Linked DNA regions of Homo sapiens: regions 2 and 3 are each reported to be linked to region 1. Evidence: microRNA targets listed by miRTarBase, many of them from high-throughput screens and not tested one by one. Region 1 holds a microRNA gene; each other region holds the end of a gene's coding sequence.

The links. The annotated mature microRNA hsa-miR-184 reads UGGACGGAGAACUGAUAAGGGU and lies in region 1 at 1,370-1,391, shown strand. An mRNA with a match to its seed (bases 2 to 7 or 8) in the 3' UTR can be bound and repressed. Matches are read on the target gene's strand: a 7mer-m8 pairs with bases 2 to 8, a 7mer-A1 pairs with bases 2 to 7 and ends in A, and an 8mer does both.
Region 2: the mRNA of IFFO2 is a reported target of hsa-miR-184. Seed matches in the 3' UTR shown: 7mer-m8 at 2,179-2,185 and 8mer at 525-532.
Region 3: miRTarBase lists GPRIN1 as a target of hsa-miR-184. The part of its 3' UTR that is shown has no 7-base or 8-base seed match.

Annotation. Positions count from the first base shown.
Region 1 is chr15:79,208,471-79,211,812 of GRCh38, forward strand. MIR184 (microRNA 184) reads left to right here and starts at 1,318; the gene lies at 1,318-1,401. All of the region lies in intron 1 of ANKRD34C-AS1 (ANKRD34C antisense RNA 1), which reads right to left.
Region 2 is chr1:18,905,967-18,908,966 of GRCh38, forward strand. It overlaps IFFO2 (intermediate filament family orphan 2), which reads right to left. Exons shown (of 9, transcript NM_001136265.2): 9 at 1-2,700. The coding sequence ends at 2,595. Among named protein-coding and RNA genes, the nearest start is that of ALDH4A1, 4.9 kb to the left of the region's middle.
Region 3 is chr5:176,594,352-176,597,351 of GRCh38, reverse strand. GPRIN1 (G protein regulated inducer of neurite outgrowth 1) reads left to right here. Exons shown (of 2, transcript NM_052899.3): 2 at 1-1,550. The coding sequence ends at 544. CDHR2 (cadherin related family member 2) reads right to left here. Exons shown (of 32, transcript NM_017675.6): 32 at 1,528-1,820. The coding sequence ends at 1,680. Among named protein-coding and RNA genes, the nearest start is that of GPRIN1, 14 kb to the left of the region's middle. RefSeq lists silencers at 88-177, 318-477.

The sequences.
Region 1 (3,342 bases):
TAGCTCATCTAATTGAACTTTTACCACAACCCTGTAAATTTGGGTGATCACAGCCATTTTGCAGATCTGGAAACGGATCTGAGAGGCTGAGTGATTCTCTGTCAATGAACCAGCAAATGACAAATTCAGGATTTAAATCCAGACCAGTTTTACTATAAAGACCAAGCCCTTAACCTTATATTGAATATTTTAATCCTCAAAACAACCCTTTGAGGTAGCTTTTATAACCCACATTTTGCCGAATAAATCACTGAGATTTGGAGAGTTTATAAGACCTGCTGAAGCTATGTAACCAGGAGGTGGCTGACCTGGGATTTAAACCTAGGGGTGAGCATAAGCTCTTTCCATCCGTTTTCTCGCTTACTTCCCACAGCAATCCTGGGAGTTAAGGAGGTACTATCTCTGTTTAGTATATCAGGAAATCAAGGCTCAGAGAGATTCAGTAATTTTCTCAGGGTTACACAACCAGGAAGTGGCAAGCAGATGGGATCCAAAGTTGGTGGTCGTCCCACAGTGTAATACTATACAGAAATCCATTTCTGAAATCTGGACGGGTTTTCTTTGGTTTCATTCCGATACACAGAATCATGTTAAGACCTCCACATTTGAAGCCATGTCAATAGTTTTTGGTTTTCAAAGACTCTGTATGAATCAGCGTGGAAGGTCAAACAGTTAAGACGGAAGAATCTGACATGATGGGGCAGAGAGCTTGGATACATGAGAACGCGCTTACCTTTGGAACCAAACTCCACCCTGGCCTAATCCCATCAAGGCCACGCAGCACAGTGGACACATCCAGCTCGCAGATTTGTGGCTGATGGGTCCTGGCCTGGGGCCAGCCTCTCTGGAGGACCAATCCTGGTTGGAGGAGGAGACTTGCTGTAGGGACTTTATGAATGGCATGTGGGTGTGGGCTTAGCCCAGAGCCCTGGGGAGGAGCAGGACCTGCTGGGCTGGGGCCTCAGACCTGCAAGAGCCACTGGGTAAAGACTTCACTAACTTCGGCTTATTTATTAATTTTAAAATTTAAATTAATTTCTATTTTTAATTGATTTTTTTTAATGCAAAGAACCTATTACTTTCCATAGCTGTCCAGAGCTGCATGTCTGAATTTCTGTGTGCAGAAACATAAGTGACTCTCCAGGTGTCAGAGGGAGAGACTGGGGCGAGAGGCCAGAGCAAAGTAGAAGGGCACAGAGGGGCTTTGAATTTGAGGCAGAGGAGGAACTGCAGAGAGGGGGCGGGGAGGGCTCGCCGGGAAATCAAACGTCCATTTACATCTTGTCCTGCAAAGCTTCATCAAAACTTCTTTGCCGGCCAGTCACGTCCCCTTATCACTTTTCCAGCCCAGCTTTGTGACTGTAAGTGTTGGACGGAGAACTGATAAGGGTAGGTGATTGACACTCACAGCCTCCGGAACCCCCGCGCCGCCTGCACTTGCGTGATGGGGAAAACCTGGCGTTCCCGCTCTGGGTGCCCGAGGACAGCAGGGGATTCCAGGAGGAGACCTTGGGCATAGGGGGCCCAGGTATGCGCCCCCTGCCTGAGGATGCTGGGGTAGCCTTTGTGTTTTGTCAGTGAGATCTCCACTTTGCTTATTCAAAATGTGCTCTCTGCGACTGGGTTTAGGGTCTCCCCTTGAGAAAAGCGGTTGGGTGGTTGGTGAGGGAAGGGGGCTTATTCCACAGACTTCTTTATAAGGTGAATAAAGGGGTATAGGACTTTTTGGAATTTTAGGTACTCTTGCTTAAAAAAAAAAAAAGGGAGAGCAGGAATTTCCGTCTGATTTGAGGGAAAGTCCCTTTCCAGACATTTTCTTCAGCTGACAGCTACTCACCAAATGCTTTTGTCTTTTTCGGTTTATAGGAACCATGTGCTGAGACAGAAGGTTTCATGACTCTAACTAAACTTATATTCTATTACATTAAAGATGGTTATTTATTACGTTGTTGATTCAGAATGATCTTTTATAACTCATAATTACTTATACCAAATCAAACTCAATAAATGTCTTAATTGGCACATTGCAGTAACGGACTGACACATAAGCAAGTCTATACACCTGTGTGTAAAGATGTAAAACCACAGATAAAAATTCCTGTAACTACAAATGCTTCTATTTCCTGGAATGTGAATACAGATTAACATGCAATGGATTGCATCTCAGCTGAACAGGTACTTTTTTCTTTTCTTTTCTGCAATTAAATATTATGATTTTACTTAAAGAGTAAATACAGTTTTAAAGTTAAATGAAGGTGGTAGATGAACACAGTGGTTCTCAGCCTTAGCTGCTTGTTGGAGTCACCTGGGAGTTTTGAAGGGTCCTGATGCATGGCAAATTACATCAGAATCTTCAGGATGTGGCTGGGCAAGAGTAGGTTTGAGAACCGTGCAAAAATAATGTGAATTAAGGCATTTAGTGTTCACATGGGGGCCTTCTCACTTTAATGCAGGAGTATATAAGCTTGGCTATCTGATACTGATGCCTGGATCTCATTCCCAGAGATTCTGATTTAATTGGTCCAGGGTGTGGCCTGGGCACTGTAGCTGTGCCAGGTGATTGCAAGATACAGTTGAGGCTTTGAATATACAGCTGTAATGCCCCCTGACAACTGTGAAAGTCCCAGCACTTAGATTGGCTGGGCTCTCAACTTCTGGTATGATCCTCCACATGTCTTTAACTTTTACGATGCCTCAGTTTCCTTTAAAGCAAACTGGAACCTGAGATGATGGGTGGAATGAATGTCCCCTCAGAGCCTTTCCTGCTCTTCAAGGTGACTGAGGCCCAAGAGTGCTTTCATGAGATTGCAGTTACTGATGAGACTCAGCACTTGTGTGTCTTGGCTCTGGGTTCAAGAGTGTGGAGAGCGGCTCAGGTGGCCATGGGATGGATAGGCAGAGGCGGCTGGGAGGAGCGGAGAGTCCGGCCCAGAGACTCAGCCACCTCCTTCAGACAGAAAGGGGCCAGTTAGGGGCTGGCTGGACAGTGAAGGTGTTGATAAAAAGGGGCTGAGTGTTCCCCACCCTCTGGTGGACATATGATGTTGGATATCTCAGGTAGTCACCTGGTGAGACACTGTTGGGCTCAGAACTATAATAAAAACAGAATACATGTCTTTGCAGTTGATTCTCCAAAGGTTTTATTTTGTTTTTATAGTTCCTCATAACTCTGTCTTTATGCGGCATAAGTGTGTTTCCAATTCTTTTTTGGACTGGTCCAAAAACATACATGTGGAAAGATTTAAAAAATCCTGCATCATCCTTTGGATTATAAGAATATTAATAATCAAAAGCATAGCTCTCATTTCTTCAGGGCTTACTAGGAGTGTCTCTGTGCAAAAC
Region 2 (3,000 bases), not on the chromosome of region 1:
CGTTGGGGTCTTTCTTGGCAAGCTGTGGGCTCATGGTGAGGGGACAAGCAGGGCCCACTGACATTAACTGAAAAAAGCATGTGGTGGAGAGGCAGGCAGGCAGGCAGGCAGGCCGGACCCAGGAACCAGCCCAGGAGGCAGGCCCATCACACTCTGGCTTTCCCTCTCCTACCCACCTGCCCCAAGTCCTCACTCCCAAGAGGAGAGCAGATATTAAAAGCCAGCCAGAAGGGACTCTCAGGCCAGGATCTCTTTCTGGCTCCTGCAGTTTTCAAACTCCCTAGAGTACCCTAGTCCTCAAAGACAAATGACCTATGTATACAAGGAGGAAAGTAAAAATAATACCGCCGGACACCGATAACCACAGTAACCTTAGTTACTCCCATGCTAACACTGCTGCCTTACAGTCTTAAGTCTAAAGATATATCTGTCACCCTCCCACCACCTTGGGGAACAACCCAGGGCCGGCTTCCACGCTGCCCACGAAACTCCCATACCACATTGTCCAATGCCTCCCTCGGCCCTGGACGGAGGAGACCCACGAGGGTGGATGTTTTCCTGCCCTCGAGGAAACGGAAAATCTTTTTAGCAGCTGAGGTCCAAGCCCAACTGGCTCTGATAACCTTTGGTTAAAATAAAAATTCAACAACAATAACAACAAGAATCAGGTATGTTTGAACCCTGTAACCTTTAGAACAAGGGTGAGTGAGGAGAGAGAAGGGCCGTCTCTCTTCCAAAACCATTGTCCCTCCAAGTACCTGTCAAAGGGAACTGTTTGGCTAACAAGAGATGCTGACTATGGAAGTGTCACAGCCAGACTGCCACAGGGGACCCGTGGGAGGTGCCCCCAGCAAAAGAAAACAAAGGAAAAAACTCATGACGAAGGCCACCAAATCGTGATAAATTACATCACACATAGTCACTAACACATTCTCACGCTCTCTCTCTCTCTCTACATATATCTTTTATGTACAGTATTTTTAAGACTGTAACACAGGTGGGGGAAACAGAAAAGAGAGAAGAGCCTTAAAGGCCACGGACCCCTGGGGACCACAATCCCAGTCAAACCCAGAGCCCCCTCCTTCTGCCTCCAGGCAAGGCAGAGGGACCCAAGTTCTAGTCCTTGGGCACATTTTGCTACCTTGACCACTAGAGGGAGCTCCTGGGACAATAAAAAATTAAAATTGGCAACAGACCCACTGCAGTAGGCTTAAAAAATAATAATAAAGCAAAGCCTGCTCAGCTGGCTCCAAGCTGAGATTTGGAAGGGGGCCACACAGTGCCCTTCAACGCAGTCCCACTCAAGCCATTCAAGTCTTGGGGGATGCTGGCTCAGATCAATACCCCGACTGGCCAGTCGAGGGAACTGCTGAGAGCGGCTTGCGTGTGTCGAGGAGCAGAAAGAGGATGGCCCTCACTCCAGCTCCTGCACTGCCAGCAGCCCACCCTGCTTCTCTCCTGCCAGCAGCCAAAAGCAGGCAACTGCCGGACAGTCCTAACCCAAGGCGGGTAGAAGGGAGCAGAGACCAGGCCTGGCCCCTTCAGACTTTCTCACAGAGAAATTACAGATCTCTAAGCCTCTATTGTTGGCTGGCGAGGGAGGGAAGAACATCAAGTTATCAGGGAAATCAAGGATCCCTCCGCCCCCGCCCTGAACCCAGAGGTCCGGAAGGAAGCAAGCGGTCAGGGAGGCCAGTGCCTTGCGGGAACCCCAGCCTCATGACCAACCTCGGCCAAACCCACACTACCCAGTCAGTGCTGCCACACAGATCACCCTAACCCCGGCCTCTCTCCCAGCTCCAGGGGGAAGCCAGGAGCCCAGGAGAGGTCCTGCCTTCCACAATGATATAAGGCAAGCTGCTTTTGTTGTTTGTTTTGTTTTTTGCATAGTAGTTTAAACACAGTGAGGCTCTGCCTTCCCCTCACAGTGCCTTGTCCCTTCAACTTTGCCACTCGATCCCCCCAAAAAATTAAAATGTGTCCTCCTTCCCTTCCTTCCACCTTTCTCTCCTTCAGGGAGTGAGAAAATTGGGGTGGTCCCTACCCAGGCCTAGAAAGCTCACAGAGGCAAGCGGCTCCTTCCTGGGGGTTGGCAGAGCACCCCAAGCTCCAGGCCGAGTCTGGGCTGGCTCAGGAGGAAGGGAGGGCATAGCCCATGGCCAATCAGAGGAGCAGGTGGGACGGACGGCAGAAACCACATTACACCACGGCCGGTTGGCCCGGCCCTCAGCTTAGAGTTCTGTATAAAAACACCTGCTAGGAATAATTCTTTGGAGCTCAAAGTGGCTCAGCTTAAGGGAGAAGGCACAGTTAACACTGCAAAGTCCGCACAGAAGTCTGCATTTGTAATGTGGAGAACAATAGAAATTGACAGCACCATTCCTTGGGTGGGTGGGGGATGGAGACGGGGCACCCGTTGGTGGTGTGGAAGGAAGGAAGGAAGCAGCAGTCCCTCAGGGCCTCCAGAGAAGGGAGGGCAGAGAAAGTCTGTGTGGTGTGGCTTCGAACCCCACTCCGAGGGGCCTTCCTGGCCCCATGAGGAGAGGTGGCAGGGCCCCATCACCAAGACCACCAGGCTCGCAGGGCCTCAGTCATCAGCTGACCATGGGCTCCACATCCGCCTCGCGCTCGAACTCATCCTGGATCTCATCTGTACTTCCTGAGTCGCTGCTGGCCACGGAGCTGGGGGACGGTGAATTCCTGAGAAGCACAAGAGAGTGGGGAAATTCAGAGAGCAGCCCTGGGCCTCTGAAGGGTCAAGGAGTGGGAAGGCTGAGCTGCCACTTCTATAAGATCTACTCTCAGAGGGGCCTGGTCCTGAGCTCCTGCCTCACTCAGCTATCCTTAAGATCCTTTAAGCTCACGAGGTAACCCCCTGCACCAGCCCCTACTTGGTCTGGCTGTGTTGGCTTCTCTAGGAAGAAAGCCCCTTGGGAGCTGGACCGTGGATCAAGTTTGGCTGTTACTCTCCAAGCACCTAACCCATGTCTGGGCATATAG
Region 3 (3,000 bases), not on the chromosome of region 1:
CATGTCTCCGCAGGACGGCGCTGGGGGCTCGGCCTTCAGCTTCCAGGCGGCGCCGCGCGCGCCCAGCCCGCCCTCGCGCCGAGATGCGGGCCTGCAGGTGTCGCTGGGCGCCGCCGAGACGCGCTCCGTGGCCACTGGGCCCATGACACCTCAAGCCGCCGCGCCGCCCGCCTTCCCCGAAGTGCGGGTGCGGCCCGGCTCAGCGCTGGCGGCCGCTGTAGCGCCCCCGGAGCCGGCTGAGCCCGTGCGAGACGTGAGCTGGGACGAGAAGGGCATGACGTGGGAGGTATACGGCGCCGCCATGGAGGTGGAGGTGCTGGGCATGGCCATCCAGAAGCATCTGGAGCGACAGATCGAGGAGCACGGCCGCCAAGGGGCGCCCGCGCCGCCGCCCGCCGCCCGTGCCGGCCCCGGCCGTTCGGGCTCGGTGCGCACCGCGCCCCCAGATGGCGCCGCCAAGCGTCCGCCCGGCCTGTTCCGCGCGCTGCTGCAGAGTGTGCGCCGGCCGCGGTGCTGCTCGCGGGCGGGACCCACGGCCGAGTGATCTGCCCCCATTTTGTACGCCCGAGTTTCCGACCTTCTCAGGCTCCCTTCTTGATCACAGGCCCCTAGAAGGGGTCCCCTCTGCGTGCCACAGGCCTCCGAGGGGTTGTGCAGCCTCTAGGGCTGTTGCGTCCCCGTCTTTCCAGCCCCTCCCATCACAAATACAGAAGAACCCCTTCTACCAAGCTCCCTCGTGGCCACGAGGCCACGAACCCGGCCAGCCCTGACGCCCCACTGTCCCCTCACAGCCCTCAGCTCTACTCCCGGTCACACTGGGCGACCACGGGGGCCTGCTCAGCACCCTCACCTCCCACCCCCTGAGAGCTGGGGCAGGCTCCTGAGATGTCTAGACTGGTGCGTTGTGGTCTCCGGTGGGGCCAGATCCCCAGAACAGGGAGAGACTGCATACAAGTCTGAGTGGCAGAAGCTTCAAGTGGGTGAGGATCGGTGTGTGAGACCCGCGAGTGGGCACGTCTCTGAATGTGAGGTCTCGGGCAGCACGTGAGGTAGAACGAGTGTGAGCGTCTCCACGCAGTGGCTGGCCCCGTGGCCGGGGCGTCTCTTGCATGCTGTTGGTGGTCCTTCCCCAGTTCCTATCTCCCACCCGCCTGGTTCCAGCCCCATCCCCTCTCCCACTGAGTCACAGGTTTGAGATTCCCAGAGAGGCCAAAGACAGCTACAGGAAGTACCCTGGGGGCTCAGCTGAGAGAGAGTCACAGAAAGGCCAGAGGGTCTCAGGAAGGTCTGGAGGTCACAGCTGGGCTCACAGAAGCTCTTGGGCCCTGGCATCCTGGGTGACCGGTGTTCTTGGGTATTGGGGACAGGACAGAGAGCTCATTCTATAACCACAGTTGTCTTTTAAAGGCCACCCTCTCCAGCCCCTTGTCCCCCCTGTGCTGTGAGCCCAAGTCCCTTGTGACCACTCAGTGTCCCGTCCCCACCCCTCCAGCCGCAGTTTTTGGCTACAAACTGTCACAGTATACATTGGTAATAAAATATTTCCCCAACCCCTGTCTGCCGTGATTGGCCAAAAGCAGGAGGCAGGGCAGCGTCATATATTTTCATCTCCAGGGAGACAGGTGCAGTTAGGGTGTGGTAGGGCCTCTTCAAGGGGTCCAGAAGAGTGGGGGCCCCTGTCACAGGTCCGTGGTGTCCAGGCCAGCGTTGGTGTAGGATGGCCCCTCCAGCTGTCCACTTGCGCCTGCCTGCCGTCCTAACAGGACCACGCTCAGGGGCTCTGGATCTGGCTCTGGTGGTGTGTGTGGTGGCCTGTGCTCCTGCAGGGAGAGGGAGAGGAGGTGTGAAGGGCAAGGCAAGGTGGGGCGAGTGCCCCAGGCCCTAGGGGAGTGGATGGGCTTCAAGCTCACGACCAGTGGTTCCTTGGCAGGGGTCCCACCCTGCCCCTCCTGGGGCCTCTGGTCCAGGCTGTGTCCCAGAGGTGGCCCTGGCTAATGGTGATGCAGATTAGGGGAGGGGGAGGGTGTGGCCTGGGGGATTCACTCTTGCCTTTGCCCTGCCCACCAACACTGCGGCACTCTGCCGTTCAGCCCAGTTCCAAATAATGCCAGGCCCTGTGTCCTGTGCCGAGGAGCCAGCCCAGCGCAGTTCCTGCCCCCTGTACCCCACGGCAGGCACCGTGTGGGTTGAGGTCCATCCATTACCTCAACTACCCACTGAAACCCTCTGAGGGAGGGAACATGTCCTCTCTTCACAGATGTGGAAACTGAGGCTTAGAGAGGTCTACTGGTGAAGAGGGGCAGACCACTGGTCTTGCTGGTTCAAAAGCGTGTCCATGATGTGACACTGCCCTGGTTGAATTTGACGTCTCTTTTTGCTGCCCTCAGAGGGACGCTGCCCACAGGCTGGTCCCACCTGCAGTTTATCATGGCACACACTCACTCATCTCTCCCGCCCTTCCTCTTCCACCTCGCCATGCGACATGCTGTGTGCGTGCACACACACACACACCCTCCTGTGGAACAGCCAGGCCCCCAAGCTCAGCTGCTCTGCTACAGAGACACCCACAGGGCCAGAGCCCCGGCCACCACCGCCCTCCCCAGGGCACTCCAAGGGCTTTTTCCAGACTGGGGCTGTTCTGGTCCCTAGTAAACAGTGGAACATCCGAGGGGCCCCAGAGGGGCTAAGCATTCTGCCTGTGTTCCTCAGAGCCCTCAAGACAGACCCCAAGTGGAGAGCTGCAGGCTCAGTGCCACCCACGATAACATGACCTGGTGCCAGAGACCAAAGACCTGGGTTCTGGTCTGCCCCTGCCCTGCAAGCTGTCCCACTTTGAGCAAGTCAGCACCCCTCTCTGGATGTGAATTTCCTTGCTGGTTACTTGGGGAGGTTAGAGTGATAATCTCTCCAGCCACTCACACCTACCACACAGACGTGTGGAGCTTAGACAAGTCAGGGCACCAAGAGATTCCTGGGAAAAGGATCCACCTGCGCCACCCC